Linked DNA regions of Homo sapiens: region 1 is linked to region 2. Evidence: fine-mapped expression QTL. A gene starts in region 2. The other region holds a variant in brackets. All regions are shown on one strand. Distances are from middle to middle. Region 1 overlaps RPS6KA1 (ribosomal protein S6 kinase A1). Region 2 holds the start of RPS6KA1 (ribosomal protein S6 kinase A1).

Region 1 (2,902 bases), 45 kb after region 2:
TCCCCAAAGCCAGCTGTCCCACCAGGACCTACAGCTTGTGAAGGTATGGCCACCCTTGGGCTGCTGGGCATCTGGGGGGTCAGCCCAAGGTGGCATGGTCAGGGACTTGTGGAAGAGCCAGGCAATGCCATGTCTGTACCAAGCACCATGAGGTGGAACATAGGAGAAGAAGACACAGCCCTGCCGTCAGGGAGCCTAACATGCTACAGTGTCACGGTGCACTCACAGCCCCCAATCCTCTGGAAGGCACAGCTGCTGACCTCTGAACCCTCCAGTCTGATGGGGGAGGCAGGACCCATGACCATAAAGGACCACTGAGGCTGGATTAACAGTGGGCTAGGCTGGGCGCGGTGGCTCACACCTGTAATCCCAGCACTTTGGGAGGCTGAGGTGGGTGGATCACGAGGTCAGGAGTTCAAGACCAGCCTGACCAAGATGGTGAAACCCCATCTCTACTAAAAATACAAAAATTAGCCAGGTGTGGTGGCAAGCGCCTGTAATCCCAGCCATTTGGGAGGCTGAGACAGGAGAATCGCTTGAACCCTGGGGGCAGAGGTTGCAGTGAGCCAAGATTGTGCCATTGCGTTCCAGCCTGGGTGACAGAGTGAGACTGTATCTCAAAAAAAAAAAAACAACAAAAACAAAACCAAAAAAAGTGGGCTGTGGAACACTGAGAGGGGCTGGCCTACCCTTGGGGCATGGATCCCCTCCCCGCTACATCTCCCACCATTGTGACCTGACCTCCCCACTTCTCTTTCAGGGAGCCATGGCTGCCACGTACTCCGCACTCAACAGCTCCAAGCCCACCCCCCAGCTGAAGCCCATCGAGTCATCCATCCTGGCCCAGCGGCGAGTGAGGAAGTTGCCATCCACCACCCTGTGAGGCACCAGGGCATTCGGGCCACAGGGCGGTGCTAGCTTGACACAGTCAGCATGCTTCCCAGAGGGAGCAGGCCGGAACCACAGGGCCAGAGGGAGCTGGAACCCGAGGGGCCGGGGAAGCTGCCAGCCCAGAACACCCCTAATGAGGGTGTGAGAAGTGCCTTCTCCTTCCCCAGGATGGACTCTTCTCGGCTCAGGCTCTGCTGGTGGAAAGCGATTCACTGTATAAACTTTTTTTTATGAAAAAAATGGCATCAACCACCATGGATTTTTACAAGATCCATTTGCCTTTCTGGGAGCAGAAACAGCCATTGCGGCCCCAGGAGGGGAACTGAGTCACGCTGGGGCTCTCTGAGACTCTTTAGAGCAGCTTTGGGATCCCACCCTGGGGACCCCCACGATTGGCCACCTGTAGCCATCTGCACACACCTCCGAGACAGTCCAGTGTCACCTCTCTCAGAGCATCTGGCTGTTTAGCAGAACTCATTCTATCCCCAATCAGCTCCTTTTCCGTTCTGTTCTGCTGGGAGTTCTAGAACCACTTCCTGCTACAGGAGGGGTCTCATGTCCTGCTGGCTTCCAGCTTCAGGCACCAGCATCCACCTTGGCTCTGCCAGTGGATCCCCT[G/A]CGGTCAGGCTGGGCAGCCCCAGAGAGAGGATGTGGAAAGCACTTTTTGGCTGACTTCATCTGGGGTTGGCAACAGGACAGAGTTCACAGGAGGCCAGTGGGCGGGCCATGAGGGACAGGGTCTTTTTTCATTTCTTCCTCAGCTGGTTACTCAGGGTTCATCTGTCCATGGCCTTTCTAATAAACTGTTGAGTTGAAGCACGCTCTCCTGCACTCTTCATCCCTGAATTTACCCTCTCTCTGCTATCGGATGTTGAAGACATTGGCAGTGACAGAAAATGGGCCAGGGCCAGTTAGCCCAGCTGCTTGGAACCAGGTCATCTGGGGAGTGTGTGGGAATCCCGCTGGCCTGGCCCACGTGTTCCTGCCAGGGGATTCCATTATGGTATTGATAACAGTATTATTAGCCAATGGTGACCAAGTGCCAGGCACTATGCCTGGGCCTCACATGAATATCTCATTTAATCTTAACCCTGTGAGGTAGATGCTCTGTATTATCCCTGTTTTATAGATGGGGAAACAGGCTCAAGTTGGGGAATGACATTTTCTCATGCAGTATTTTCTGAGCACTCATTCTGGCCCTGTTCTGGATGCTGGTGAACCAGGTAAAGAACAAGGTCATTGTGTCCAGGGGTCTTACTTCCCAGTAGGGGAAACGGACACTTAACAAGCCATGGTCAGCTACTGATAAGACACATACAGAATTAAACTGGGGTGAGATATTGGGTAATCAGGGAAGGCCATTCTGGGGAGGTAACCCAGGAGCTGAGATCTGAATGGTGAGAAGGGGTCAGCCAAGACTGGTAGGCAGAGGGCAGTCAGGACAAAGGCCATGAGGGGGAAACAGGCTCGGTGTGCTCAGGGATGAGAGGAGGCTGATGTAGCTGTGACCCCAGAGCCAGGCGTTTGCCCAAGATGAGGCTGGAAAGGAGGCAGAGGCCAGTTATGCTAGGCACTGTAAGCCAGGATTAGGCGTGCATTTAATTCTGAGTGAGGCGCAAGCTCCTAAAATAATTTGAGCAGGAAAGTGACATGATTTGATCATGATTTGATTCACATTTTTAAGAGATCACTCTGGGCCAGGTGCAGTGGTTCACGCCTGTTATCCCACCACTTTGGGAGGCCGAGGCAGGCAGATCACTTGAGGTCAGGAGTTCAAGACCAGCCTGGCCAACATGGCGAAACTCTCTCTACTAGAAATACAAAAATTAGCTGGGTGTGGTGGCGCATGCTCCCACCCATCAGCTCGCAAGGCTGAGGCATGAGAATTGCTTGAATCTGGGAGACAGAGGTTGCAGTGAGCCGCGATCGCACCACTGCACTCCAGCCCAGGCGACAGAGCGAGACTGTCTCAAAAAAATAAAAGATCACTCCGATTGCTCTGTAGAGAATT
Region 2 (2,902 bases):
GCCCTAGTCTGTTCTCAACCTCTTGTGTGACCTTGGGTAAGTCACTTCATCTTTCCGAGCTTGTTTCAGGATTTGTAAACTAGGTGGTGGTAATCATTCAAGGAAATCACATGGCTCGCAGGAAGCTTTTGATAAACATTCCTTCCCATTCCCCTGCCTTAGAACAGCTTTGCAAATAACTGACCAGTCTTCCTGCGAAACCAGCAAGCTTGTCCCTCCAGCAAGCTCACTCCTCACATGTGAATACATCTCAGCACACCCGGACCCCTAAGGCTCTTTAGGTGGAGGCTGAATCTCTCTGGGGCAACCAGTCTCCCTGGCCTTTCACTCCAAGTCCCACCAAGCCTCGGTTCATCCTGGGAGCCTGGTCCCTCCTCAGAGAGTCGCAAACCCAAACTAGTCCAGAGCTGGGGCTGCAGGTGACTCCAGGGAGACCTGACCTGAAAGGACCCCCTTCAAGTGATAGGGCAGAGCACAGATTGCAAAAACGCATATTAAGAAATCACTCTTGGCCGGGCGCGGTGGCTCATGCCTGTAATCCCAGCACTTTGGGAGGCCGAGGCAGGAGGATCACTTGAGCCGGGGAGTCAGAGACCAGCCTAGGTAACAAAGCGAAACTTCGTGTCTCTCTCTCTCTCACTATATACACACATACATACATATATGTGCATATATATAATATTTATTTATACATATTTATTTATATATGTAATATTTATATACATTATGTAAAATCAATCGATCAATCAATCACTCTGTGGTGGCACTATGGGTCCTGATGGTGGTAACAACTGCTGATGCCCATCTTGGCCTGGGGCACTGAGATCGCCCGGAGATCACAGTGTTAGCTTCAGGGCGGGGTAGAAATTAGAGGATAGGGGATCTCTAGGGCCTGGTGAGTTGAGGGCCTAAGGGGAGTGGGTCTCAGGCTCCTTCCAAGCCTCAGCCTAGATCAGGCCCAGGAACCCAGTGTGAATGTGTGTGCTGGGGTCGGGGATAAGGTGCTTCTCTCCCGTTGGAAGGAGAAGGAACATCTGGGCTGGGATTCCAAAAGAGCTGAGCGGGGGAGAACGGTGGCCCTGGTGTGGTGTGTCCAGGGGTACACCACTGGAAGGGAAGGAGCCAGCAGGGCCTCTCCGGCGGAGCCGAGCGCGGGCCGGGGGCTCGCGGCAGGGGCGGGGCCGGCCCTCGGGGCGCGGCGGGGGCGGGGGTCCGCGCTGGGAATGCCGCGCCGCGGGGGCTGGGGCGGGGCTTCTCCGGCTCCGCCCCCGCGCAGGTAGCCAATGGGCGCGGCGGCGCCGGGTGACGGAGGGAGCCGAAGTGCTAGTGCCGCGGCGGCGGCGGCGGACGGCCCAGCCGGAGCGCGAGGGGCTCGGGGGGGCGCGGCGGTTCGGGTCGCAGAGCCAGGGACCCCAGGACCCGGGAGGCGGCGCAGCCGGGGCCGCCGGAGGAGCGCGGGTGACCTGGCGGCGGCGAGATGCCGCTCGCCCAGCTCAAGGAGCCCTGGCCGCTCATGGAGCTAGTGCCTCTGGACCCGGAGGTGAGTGAGCGGGGCGGGGGACGGGCGCCCGCGGCCGGCGAGCCCGGATCCTCACAGGGGCGGGGCGGCCCGAAGCGCCGCTGCAGTCCGGCGGGCGCCCGCGAGGGCGCGAGTGCCCTCCGATCTCTTGCCCACTGTCCGGCTCCACCCCCCTATGCCCGGGTGTGCGTGTGCGAGGGACAGTTCCGCCAAGCGCCGACTACCTCCCCGCCATAGCCAGGAGAGGGGATCCTATGGGGCGCTGAGATCTGGTCGCCTTCACCCCACACCTAGGACCCGTCCCGGCATCTGTCCAGAGCTGTCGGAGCTTCCTCCATTAATGCAGACGGGGAGATCTTCAGTGCCAGATGTCTGGGATTCTACCAGAGACAGGGGTTATGGGACCCCCACTTCTCCCAGGGCCCTCCGCCAAGAGCTCCCTGCTTCTGGCTTCACCGCTGCTGAGCCTAGAAGGATTGCTCCTCTTGACCCCTGGCGGATGCGGAGTGTGGGATGGCACCACCCGTCTGGGGCTGGAACTCCTGGTTTTCTTTGCCCTGAGGCTAGGGCCAGAGGACACCTGTGTGCCCTACCCCAGGCTGTGGAGACGAGAGTGGGGAAGAGCCCTTAGACCTTGTGAAGATGATTCCTGGCAGGGCGTGGGGGGACCTTGGTGCCTGCCTCCCTTCTTATGCCCCTTCCGGTAGGAAGGGCTGGGCCCTTGGGGAGTTTGGCTTCTGCCAGCCCAGACTCCCCAGACAACCCAGCTCCTTCTCTCTCAGAAGCAGCTCCTGACCTCCCTTGAGGGCTCTGTGGCTCCAGTCCCTAAGCGTGCAGAAGGCCACCTCTTCCTGTGCCTTTTGACCCCAGGGTCAAGGTCAAGCCCCTGAATGAGCTGGTGGAAAACTTCCTCCTTAACCTCTTGCTGGGAAGGAAGCAGGTGATATTCTCCTTCCCAGGTGGTTGTTGGGGGTATGCAGGGAGGGAATGGAGACCTCATTTGAGCCCAGGAGCTGAGATGACTTTCTCCCAGCTTGGGCCTGGAGCCCCTGTCTCAGTCCCCTCCTCTGCCCTCTCTTACCTAGGGCAGCCACCAAGTGTCCTGCCTCTCAGGACCACAGGCTTAGATCAGGGTGAGCACCCAGGGTCCCCAGCCCCCAGGGTGTGCTGCCCCTTTAAAGGGATGGCCGACACTGGCTATTGGAGGGTGGGCGCGGCAGGATTAGGTAACCAACCTGAAGGAGCAATTTGGAGTAAATTGCTCTGGGATTCCTGCCATGGGGATTTTACAGGCACTGCTAGGCTGCTCAGAGGTTCTCTCGCTGACTCACCCTCTGAGGTGAGGAACACTGCCCTCTGCAGCCCCTGTACTGCCACCCCGCT

The links. PIP is the estimated chance that this variant, and not a neighbour inherited with it, causes the effect.
Region 1: its variant is fine-mapped to the expression of RPS6KA1 in whole blood (INTERVAL, PIP above 0.99).

The regions. Positions count from the first base shown.
Region 1 is chr1:26,573,319-26,576,220 of GRCh38, forward strand. It overlaps RPS6KA1 (ribosomal protein S6 kinase A1), which reads left to right. Exons shown (of 22, transcript NM_002953.4): 21 at 1-43; 22 at 761-1,707. The coding sequence ends at 883. Among named protein-coding and RNA genes, the nearest start is that of MIR1976, 20 kb to the left of the region's middle. The variant G/A (reference allele first, on the strand shown) is at 1,510.
Region 2 is chr1:26,528,444-26,531,345 of GRCh38, forward strand. RPS6KA1 (ribosomal protein S6 kinase A1) reads left to right here and starts at 1,318. Exons shown (of 22, transcript NM_002953.4): 1 at 1,318-1,540. The coding sequence starts at 1,478. It overlaps LOC124903884 (a long non-coding RNA gene), which reads right to left. Exons shown (of 2, transcript XR_007065558.1): 1 at 2,755-2,902; 2 at 677-2,118. RefSeq lists a silencer at 1,203-1,682 and enhancers at 1,924-2,834, 2,835-2,902.